2 separate regions of the Homo sapiens genome follow, and region 1 is linked to region 2. Evidence: fine-mapped expression QTL. A gene starts in region 2. The other region holds a variant in brackets. All regions are shown on one strand. Distances are from middle to middle. Region 1 overlaps PCSK9 (proprotein convertase subtilisin/kexin type 9). Region 2 holds the start of USP24 (ubiquitin specific peptidase 24).

Evidence for each region. PIP is the estimated chance that this variant, and not a neighbour inherited with it, causes the effect. A credible set is the group of variants that fine-mapping cannot tell apart.
Region 1: its variant is the best candidate, but not a certain one, in a credible set for the expression of USP24 in esophagus muscle (GTEx, PIP 0.51).

The regions. Positions count from the first base shown.
Region 1 is chr1:55,060,989-55,066,459 of GRCh38, reverse strand. It overlaps PCSK9 (proprotein convertase subtilisin/kexin type 9), which reads right to left. Exons shown (of 12, transcript NM_174936.4): 11 at 4,904-5,085; 12 at 1,608-3,091. The coding sequence ends at 2,876. It overlaps USP24 (ubiquitin specific peptidase 24), which reads left to right. Exons shown (of 68, transcript NM_015306.3): 68 at 1-101. Among named protein-coding and RNA genes, the nearest start is that of PCSK9, 24 kb to the right of the region's middle. The variant G/A (reference allele first, on the strand shown) is at 2,305.
Region 2 is chr1:55,212,303-55,217,302 of GRCh38, reverse strand. It overlaps USP24 (ubiquitin specific peptidase 24), which reads left to right and starts at 1,939. Exons shown (of 68, transcript NM_015306.3): 1 at 1,939-2,513. The coding sequence starts at 2,190. It overlaps LOC100507634 (a long non-coding RNA gene), which reads right to left and starts at 1,895. Exons shown (of 1, transcript NR_038320.1): 1 at 1-1,895. RefSeq lists silencers at 1,762-2,271, 2,342-2,531 and an enhancer at 2,992-3,051.

The DNA of each region.
Region 1 (5,471 bases), 150 kb after region 2:
GGAAGTAGATACACTAGGGAAGAACCTTAATTCTAAATTTGGTTCATGTGTGGCAAAGTTCTTAGCTTCTAAGAGTATAAAATAAATTTTTCAAAAACAGAGTTGGAGTCTTGCCGCCATTCTTCATATATCAGAACACAGCCGTAGTGGGCGGGGGAACACGAGCCTGTGCCTGGTGCTAAATGCTGTTGATTCCTCTTAGTACTTTACACTAATAAAGGGGACTGTGGGTCCTCTGAGCCTGTTGCTGTTCTTTTCTCTGGAGGGGCTGACCATTTCAGGATTCATCTGCAAAGCTTAGAGGAGGATGCTGAACTTAGGTTGATGGTCTCCATTCATCTCCACCAAAGCTTTTGGCTCTCCCAAGTGGTCCCCAGCATAGATCGTGTCGCTGGTCACACTGGGCTTCTTGCTAGATCCCACAGGTCTCAGTCTCATTCCTAGTGGCCAGCGTTGCTCACATGGGTCCCCTTCCCTATTTGCTAGTCCAGATTTTCGCCTTCCTGCAAGCCACACCCCTTCCTCCCCGATCCCTGGTGACCACCTGCTAACCCTCTGCAAGAACCAAGTTGTTCCAACATCACAGAGCTGTCAGGGTGTGGATCTCTAACCAGCTGATACTTGATTCTGTGGAGGGGAAGGAGAGAGAGTCTAGGGTTGCACCACAGGCCTAGGTTCCAACGGGCAGAGATAACACAGTTGGGTGTTCAAGCCATTGCCATCTGTCAACTCTTGAATGCTTTCCATATATGACACTGAATTGTCAGAAAATGTAATCTGGGAGGAATTTTGCCTGAGATTCCTTATGACATGGGCTGTCTAGAGAGAGAGAGAACTTGCTTAAGACAGCTATATTCACCAGCCTTAGAGTGGAGGGCCTGGAGGTCCCACATTGAATGGGATCATTATGCACTCTGTAACCCAGGCTGCAGTGCAGTGATGATGTAATTACAGCTCACTGCACCCTCAGCCTCCCAGCTCAAGCAAGCCTCCCATATCAGCCTCCTGAGTAGCCGGGACCACAGGCATGTGCTACCACACCTCGCTAATCTTTTAAATTTTTTTATAGAGACGGGGTCTCACTGTTGCCCAGGGTCTTGAATTCCTAAACACAAGCAATCCTCCTGCCTCAGCCTCCCAAAGTACTGAGATTACAGGTGTGAGCCATTGCACCCAATCTGAGACTGTTCTGAATTTTAAATCATGAAAAAAGCCATGGACTTAGCACTGGCTCATTACAGAAGCATCTGGCACTGTAACTTATTCCGTAAATACTCGGGCCAGGCTGTGTGCCAGGTACTGGGGAGAAAAGAATGAAAAGGGCATTGGGAGGTCAGGACAACAGAGCATCTAGAGTGCTGTAGGGCACCTGTCACCAAGGAGGAGGCACTTTGACTGTCAGGGTGGTCAGGGGAGCTGCAGGAAGACATTCATTTCATTCCTAGGATAGGCACAAGGAGTAAGTTCACATCACCAGTACTTGCCCAATACTTGTACTCAAGATAAAAGTACTCATCAAATACTTGGCTTACTCAACTATTCAACAAACTTACCCAGTTCCTAGTATAAGCAAGGCATCACCCTAGGCAGTCAAGTCTATGCAAGAGTTAGGACAACGTTTGTTTGTTTTTATTTTAAAAAGTCACCATATTAATAAAAATGCTACAAAACCCAGAATAAATATCTTCAAGTTACAAAAGCAAAACAGGTCTAGAAAAGTTGGCTGTAAAAAGGCAACAGAGAGGACAGACCCAAAAGATAAATGTCTGCTTGCTTGGGTGGGGCTGGTGCTCAAGGAGGGACAGTTGTTGGCCCTCTCCCCCGACCATGCCTTAGAAGCATCTCCGCCAGGCCAGTGAATCAGGCCTGGGTGATAACGGAAAAAGTTCCATGCCTGCAGGCATCGTTCTGCCATCACTCACCGAGCTTCCTGGTCTGTGTTCCCCTTCCCAGCCTCACTGTTACCCGTAAAAATGAGGAGCCCAGCCGGGTGAAGTAAGAAGAGGCTTGGCTTCAGAGCCAGCCCAATCTGCGTTTCTGGCTCAGTTCCTGCTGTGTGAGCTTGGCAGGCACGCCCCCTCTGGTTCCAGGTTTCTTCCTCTGTGAAGTAGGGGTGCGAATGTGTACCCTGCCGGGTAGTGGAGCGGGTTGGCTGAGACAGTGCATGCACCACTGCACACTGCCGAGTCAGTCCTAGGTGATGGCTCCCCGCAGGCCACCTTTGGGTGTTGCTAGCACAGCCTGGCATAGAGCAGAGTAAAGGTGGCTCAGGAAACCAAGGCACAGCCTGTGACCACCAGGGGC[G/A]CACCTGTCTCCAGCCTCTGGCTAGATGCCATCCAGAAAGCTAAGCCTCCATTAATCAGGGAGCCCCCAGGGGCTTCTCCACAGTTAGCTGGAGATGAGGGCCATCAGCACCTTTCACACTCACCCCCCAACGATGTTTGTCCCTGCAGCCCCTACCGCCCCCTCCCCTATCCATGGGAAGAATCCTGCCTCCTTGGTGGAGACCTGAGGATTGAATGCCTGGCACGGAACAAGAGCTCAATAAAAGTCATTCTGCCCACGGACATCGGCACATTGGGAGCAGCTGGCAGCACCCGAGCACAGCTCGACCTGTTTGAATGGTGAAATGCCCCACAGTGAGGGAGGGAGCTTCCTGGCACCTCCACCTGGGGAGGAGGCACCCAGAGTGAGTGAGTTCCAGGCAAGGAGGCTGCCCCACTCAAGGGCCAGGCCAGCAGCCCCGGAAAGGCGGAAGCATCCCCATCCCCTCGTGCCAGGCCATGGAGGGCTGAGAGAGGGACAAGTCGGAACCATTTTAAAGCTCAGCCCCAGCCCTTGACCCTCCCCAGACACCCATCCTGGGATGGGGCTGTCACTGGAGCTCCTGGGAGGCCTGCGCCAGGTGCCGGCTCCGGCAGCAGATGGCAACGGCTGTCACGGCCCCTTCGCTGGTGCTGCCTGTAGTGCTGACGTCCCGGCTCCTGACTACACACGTGTTGTCTACGGCGTAGGCCCCCAGGACGTGGGAGGTCCCAGGGAGGGCACTGCAGCCAGTCAGGGTCCAGCCCTCCTCGCAGGCCACGGTCACCTGCCAGAGCCCGAGGAAAAGAAAGCACATGTCTAGCGTGGCCCGGGACCCCCACCCACACTTCATTTCTCCCTCCGACATCCTTCTGTGAGGCCAAAGTGCAGACGGCCCTCGCTGGCTCAGAGCCCATTTGGGACACAACCGTGTATCTCCCACCCCGCACCTCCCACCCAGGCGGTTCTGCACCATGGCTGACCAAACACGTGAGCTCCTGCTTCATGCCTGGTTTGAGGGCCGTGGAGATAGACAGATGCCTACCATGCCAGTGCCAAACTCATCCCTCTGAAACTGATGGCCCCATAGCCTGCCCCATCCCACTTAATGGCAACTCCATCTGTCCAGGGGCCCGAGCCTTGGTGCCATCCTCCCCCTCTCCCACCCACATCCACCCACCAGGCCTGCAGGCTCCCTTCAGACTCCAGCCTGAGCCCCGCCCCAACGCCTGGACCCTCCACCGCCTCCCTCCAGTCTCCCTGCTTCTGCCCAAGGTCCTTGTCATCTCTTCTCAGCTCAGCAGCTAGGCCACAGTGAGAGGTTCAGATCCAGGCCAGACCACACTCCTCTGAGGCCAGACCCCTGCATGGCCCCAGCTCACTGCTGACTGTGACCCTCAGGTCTCACCTGACTTGGCCCTGTCCCCTCTGAGGCACCCCCCATCTCATAACTATTCCCACCTCTCTGGTTTCCTGGTACTCCCTGCACATCCCCACCTGGGGGCCTTTGCTTTGCCTGGAACATGTTCTCTGCCTCATGGCCTGTTTCGTCCACCTTGTCAGCGAGACCTCTCCTGACCTCTCTCCCACCCCATTCCCTTCCTTGCTATAGTTTTCTCCATCGCATCTTTTCAGTACTCTATATTAATGGTTTGTTTTCTGTCTTCCTCCACTAAAATAGATGCTCCAGGAGGGAGAACAGCATGTCTCTTGGGCCTGTATCCCTCCCCAGTGCCAGGAAGAGCACCTGGAACCTAGCAGCCCTCAGTGTACCCAGGGCAAGTGGATCCAAGACCAAGACTGTCTTTTGCTCTCGAGGAATGCACCATCCAGACCAGAATCAACACAGACTTGCATTTTAAAACTGACTCTGAGTTCATTTAAGAGTGGACTCCTTAGGGCTGCCTTTTGAGGAGCTCCTACTGGCTTTTAAGGAGAGTTATACACTCAGGTTTCTAGAAGGCCCGGCTGTCACATTCCAGGGCTTGGCACATGCCTTGCTAATCTCGGCAGGGCCTTTTCTTGCCTTGCTGGTCATGCTAACAACCTTCAGCATGCAGCTCAGGCACCCCCTCTGGGTCACGGCTGAGTGAGCTCTGTGTCCTCAGAGCCCAGTGCTGCTCCTGACCCTGAGACCCTCCCAGCAGGTTTGTTAAATAGATCAGAGAGGCCAGGTGCAGCGGCTCATGCCTATAATCCCAACACTTGGGGAGGCTGAGACCAGAGGATTGCTTGAGCCCAGGAATTTGAGACCAGCCTGGGCAACACAGCAAGACCCCATCTCAGAAAAAAATAGATCAATCAATAAATGCATGCATATTGCATTTCTTTATGCCATATTTATGCACATTCTACTCCAAGTGGAGTGGGGTACCCAGGTAGCAAACCTTACTGATCTGGACAAAAGCAAAAACAGACCCAGCCACACAGAGACACATATACATGCTGTCCACACAATGGCGGAAGCTGCCCACAGCATCTACCTGGCAAACCGCCACCCTGATGCATGGCGGTATGGTGGTGGCACAAACTGACACAGAAAAGCTGTGCAGGAGAGACACGCAGCACCCCACCCACCCGGCCTCACGGGCCTCTTCACCTGCTCCTGAGGGGCCGGGATTCCATGCTCCTTGACTTTGCATTCCAGACCTGGGGCATGGCAGCAGGAAGCGTGGATGCTGGCCTCCCTGTGGCCCACGCACTGGTTGGGCTGACCTCGTGGCCTCAGCACAGGCGGCTTGTGGGTGCCAAGGTCCTCCACCTCCCAGTGGGAGCTGCAGCCTGGGGCAGAGGAAAGCCAGCTCAGATGTGAAATGCTGGGATGCTCCGTCTCCAGTGCCCATCCCCATCAGACCCTCTCTCTTTAAGGTCTGAGGCAAGAGCTAGGAAACCTAGAAACAACTCAAAGAAAAAAAGAGATGCTGGCCTGAGCACCAGGACTCCTGTGTTCTCAACTCTGCAGCTGACCAGCTGTGTGACCTTGGGAGAGCCATTCAACCTCTCTGAGCCTTAGTTTCTCAGGGAAAACACCATCTTTCCACCCAGAGATGGAGACAGTGAGGCAGGGGCTCTATGGCCTGAGATGCTCAAACTCCCCCCAGCCCCTCCCTATGCAGCCAGCAGGCAGAAGTTCAAGGGTAAGCCGGGGTCTGTCTGAACCACCTCAG
Region 2 (5,000 bases):
GATAAACATTTAAAACTTCATTGTGTACCTGGAAGTTGATACTTAATAAAAATTTTATTTCAATATGTACATTGTGACCCAAACCAATTATAGGCATTCCTTCTTGTCATTGTTGTTCAGAAGTGTGAGGTTTCCTTTTGTTACTTTTAATTAAAAAATTGAGACTTTATTTGCTTTGGATATGAGGCCTAGGCTTTATAATGTCGCCTTTAATGGAAACAACAAATACAGTAACTTCATTTAAAAGTAAACAATAGTGACAAATTCACCCTGTAAATCAAATTGCTGGTATTTATAAACACAGGTGGCAAGTTACTAGGTACGAAGGGTTCGTGGTCCAGGGGAAAATATGCCAGCAGAGTGCAGAGACAATGTCTAGGTACCGGCCCTAATTTAATATTTGGTGTATGTAAAGATCTTCGTGAGTGCTGGGCTGGCAACAGCAGGGGTTTGATGGGATGAAAAAGTAAGGTTAGCTGGATTTCAGGTTCAGGAAGAAACCAGGATGAGGACATTAGAAGATGAACTCAGCAAGTATGTAGGAATAGGCATAGGAGATGAACTCAGCAAGAATGAAGGGATATCCGAATCTTGGGAAAGGGTGGGAAAATAACCTAGAGAACTATGGATTGAAGGAAATTGAAGAGGAAAAATAGCAAGGACTTAGGCCCAGGACGGCTTTGAATGCGGCTCAGCACAAATTCGTAAACTTCTTAAAACATGATGAGATTTTTTAAAAGTTTCATCAGCTACCATTAGCGTTAGAATATTTTATATGTGGTCCAAGACAATTTTTCTCCTTCCAATGTAGCCCAGGGAAGCCAAAAGATTGGACACCCTTGGCTTAGATGGTGGAGTCAAGGGAACTAAAGATATGACCCCAGTGTGCCAATGCCAAAGGTGAGAAGAGAAAGCAAAGAAAGCAGGCCTTTAAAGAGGTAGAGGAATCCTCAAAGGTGGAAAGAAACAGGGATAGGATGCTGCCCAAGAGGCAGGGACAAAGAATCGGAGCCAAAGACTGCGGTAAAAATGTGGGAAGGTGATGTCCACGATGTTCGAACGAGTCCGTGGCCGAAGGAAGTAAGAGTCTGGGTTTCTGGAGGTTTTCATACAGAGAACTGGGATTTAGATTTCGGGCTGGAAAAATATATTTTGGACTCTCAGGGGCTTTCAGGGTAAGAGTTCGGTAGAGTTCAGTCAGCTTGGCGGAGACAGGTAGTCAGTTAATGTTGGAAGGAAAATTCGGACAGCTGGGAATTAATTTCAACGGGTTTAGGGTGATTTCGGCAAGGGCTGGCGGGGCTAGGGTCGAGTGTGAATTTCGTCTTGGGTGGTCCACGCGTCTGGTTTGGGCAGGAATTTCTGTGGGCAGCGAGGCGTATTCAGGCAGCGTTGCGGGTGAATCTGCGTGGGATGAGGGTGGATTTCCTTCAGGACTGCGGTGCATTTCAGGCCGGGGTGGAGGTGCCTCACAGCCGCGGCGCAGGGAATTCCCTCTAGGATGGGGGAGCGGGTCGGGCGGCGCCGGCCAGGGAGGGGAAGTCCAACGGGGGTTCGGAGAGGCTCGGGGGACTCGGACGGAGAGAAGCCGGGTCGCGGCTGCGGAGGCTCGGCCGGCCAAGGGATTTCCGCGACGTTCAGCGCTGCGAGCTGCGCGGCGCTGCGGCCCCTCCCGTCCCGGGGGAACCTGTTGCCGGCGAAACAGGCGGGCGGTGGCGACGATGGAGAAGCCTTCCTCGCCTCTGCCTGGCTGCACGGCAGCCCTTTCACCTTAGGCACGCTCCGCGGCGCGGCCCCTCCCTCCGCTCCTTCGTTTAAAACAAACAGAATACGCCGCCGCCAACCCTAGCCTGCCAACGGCGAGCACGGTCGCCTCCCGTGCCGCTTCCGGGAGCCGAGGCGCGGCCCCGCCGCCCGGGGAGGAGGAGGCGGAGGGGGAGGAGGCCAACATGGCGGCGCGCAGGGCTGGGCCGGGCCGCAGCCGCGCCTGAGCGCCTCACCGCACTAGCTCGGCTCGCAGGACCCAAGCCCGCACCCAGCCTGGCCCGGCTGCTGCGGAGCACCCGGGGCAGGAACGCAGGGGCCAACCTGGGCGCGGAGGCGGCGCGGAGGGTGCGCCGCGCGGCCCGCCAGGCCCGGGACCCGTAGCTTCGCCGTGCGCTGGCCGGGGCGGCCAGGAGGCCCAAGCCATGGAATCGGAGGAGGAGCAGCACATGACCACGCTGCTGTGCATGGGCTTCTCAGACCCCGCCACCATCCGCAAGGCCCTGCGCCTGGCCAAGAACGACATTAACGAGGCCGTGGCACTGCTCACCAACGAGCGGCCGGGCCTCGACTACGGCGGCTACGAGCCCATGGACAGCGGCGGTGGCCCCAGCCCCGGGCCCGGCGGGGGCCCGCGGGGCGACGGCGGAGGTGACGGCGGCGGCGGCGGCCCCTCCCGCGGCGGGAGCACCGGAGGCGGGGGCGGCTTCGACCCCCCGCCCGCCTACCACGAGGTGGTGGACGCGGAGGTGAGGAGGGGCAACCCCAGACCTCTGTGGGAAGCCACTGGGCTGGAGTTCCTGGGAGGGGACACACCCCGCTGGGCTTGGTGTGGGGAGAGAGGGCATTCGACTGGGGCTTTAGTGGGGGCGGGGCGGAGAGAGAGAGAGAAGCCCCAGGCTCCAGTTGGGAACCGAAGTCACTTGATTGGGGGTAAGTGGGGAGAGGGACCCATAGGAGAGGCGTGTGAAAGGGAATTAGGGATGCGCAGCGGAGCTGTGGGTTGGGGTGAGGAGGGGTCCCTTAGGCTTCCGGCTATGCACGCCGACGATGGGGAGGAGGCTCCAGGGCTATCATCCGAGATGGGAGGACAGACACTTGAGCATATAGTGGGAAGGATGCGTGCAGTAGGGGGTCGGAAATGGGGTACTAGTGCACTAGGCTAGGTCGGAGATTTTGTGGCACGAGGTTTCAGTGAAGGATTGGCGGAGGCACCAGGCTCAGAGTCAGAAAAAGCGGTGTGGGCCGGCCAGAGTAGTGGTCTTTGACAGGATCACAGGAAAACTGTTGGGGTTAGGAGTGAGGTTGGGGTTTTAGCCAAGGGTCGGAAAGGGGGGGCATTGAGTAGGATTTAAAATGAAGAGGGAAGGGGCCGCGGCCAGGAATGAGGACTTGAATAAAATCAGGTATGAGAGCAGTGGGGATTGCACTGAGAGGGCAGAGGTGGGAGGCCTGGGCAGGGGTGGGAGCTGAGGAGGGTCTAGGCAGGGATGGGGACTGGAATTGGAAGATAGAGCTGGCACCAGGTCTGGGTAAAGAGGGAGTACTGGTCATCGATAAGGTCAGAAATGAGAGAAAATTAGACCGGGGAAAGAGATGGTAGTCATACTGAGGGTGCTATGCAGAGGGGCGCGGAACAGGGTGGGAGCGCAGTGGGGGTGGAGGAGGAGTCTTGAGGCTAATGGCTTTGATCAGAGACCTCAAGTCTAGGTGGAGAAGACTATGCCTGTTTAGTTTGGGGTGTGAGCAAGGAACGTGGGGGAAGAAAACGGACTCTTCTATAATAAAGAAAAAAGATCGACCAGAAGCAGCAGTGCTTTTGAATAATTACTTTGCAGAAACATAGTAGCTCATGGCAGGAATTTTGGTCAGATTCGTTGGGTAGTTCATTTCAGGGGCCAGTAGAGCAGCTTGGCCTGACCACAGAAAAGCACAGATCTCAAATTATTGGGATTGCGTTATTAGGTAGAGATACGAATTTGGTTCGTTCTTAATGAAGAATTAAGCTTAGTGAAGCTAAGCCTTTTGAAACACTTTTTCCTGAGCAGTGTTATATCCTTTTAATTGTATGCTTTTGCAACAGTTCCTCGGGCTGAAGTAGCTTGAACAAGAAGGTGGCACTTAAAAAGAACAGGTTTCTGCACAAGATTTCTTTGGCTTCCACACTTAGACACAGTTGCTAGATTGCCCTCTGTAACCCACTAACTTAGCTGTATCGTTGACTAGTATATGGAAATAAAGATTGTTACTATTCCTAGTTTGGGAATTTTTTTAAATTCCCATATAATTGAGTAACCATACTTAAGTCATTTTAAGAAATCAGCTTCTCATTGGCAGTTCCTATCACTCCTCCCTCGTTCCTTCTAGTTTTTGACCCAGTTTTGAAATCAAGAAGAAAGCCGTTGCTTTTTCAGAAGGTGTTTGTATAACTCTGCAAAGCTCAGTGTATCCTCATTATGTGAGAAATGTGATTCTTTTTTTCTTTTGTCATACCTTTTAATTTCCTGTGATTGGAAAATCAATTTAAATTACAATGCTTGGTGCATTCATGTTAACATTAGCGCTAACCTTAGCTTACTGCCAGTACATGTAAGTACAAAGAATTGGGAGTGGCTTCTTACGTGAATGGCAGGCTAAGGAGTTTGGTTTGCGGTAAATTAAAATCCATAAAATCTCCATCTTTTCGAAGCAGTGCATCAAGTCCTCATTTCTCCTAGACCTGTGGATTTGGCCTGGGGGAGGGAAGCTGCACCGTTTACTTTTAAGAGTTCAAGAGGAGCTGGTGACTGAGGCTGCTTTACCCACGAAGCGTATTGGCAGAGGTTGGCAGGCTGAGACTTTCCTGACACACAGGAGCCTTTTGGAAACATTTAACGCAGAATGTGCCTCTGTGGTTTAATAATCTTAATGCATGCCACCTATGGAACTTCTTGGTCATCCTTGGTGTACACAGTGGGAAACTGAGGCTCTTGATCTTGGGAAATAGGGAAAGGTAATAAATATTATCCAGCATCTACAGGGTGTCAGGCCCTGTCTTAGGTGCGTTATACAGTTTATTTAACCCTTGGTGAGAGAGTTAACGTAGGCTTTTTAGGGATATGATTATGTAGTGGGTGGCAGGGGCTGAATTTGAACCCAGGTCTCTTTGACTTCAAAGCCAGTGTGCTTTTCACTCTGCTCAACTCATGGTTTTAGGATTAAATTTGTTTGGTAACAGTATGGATAGTAAGGAGAAA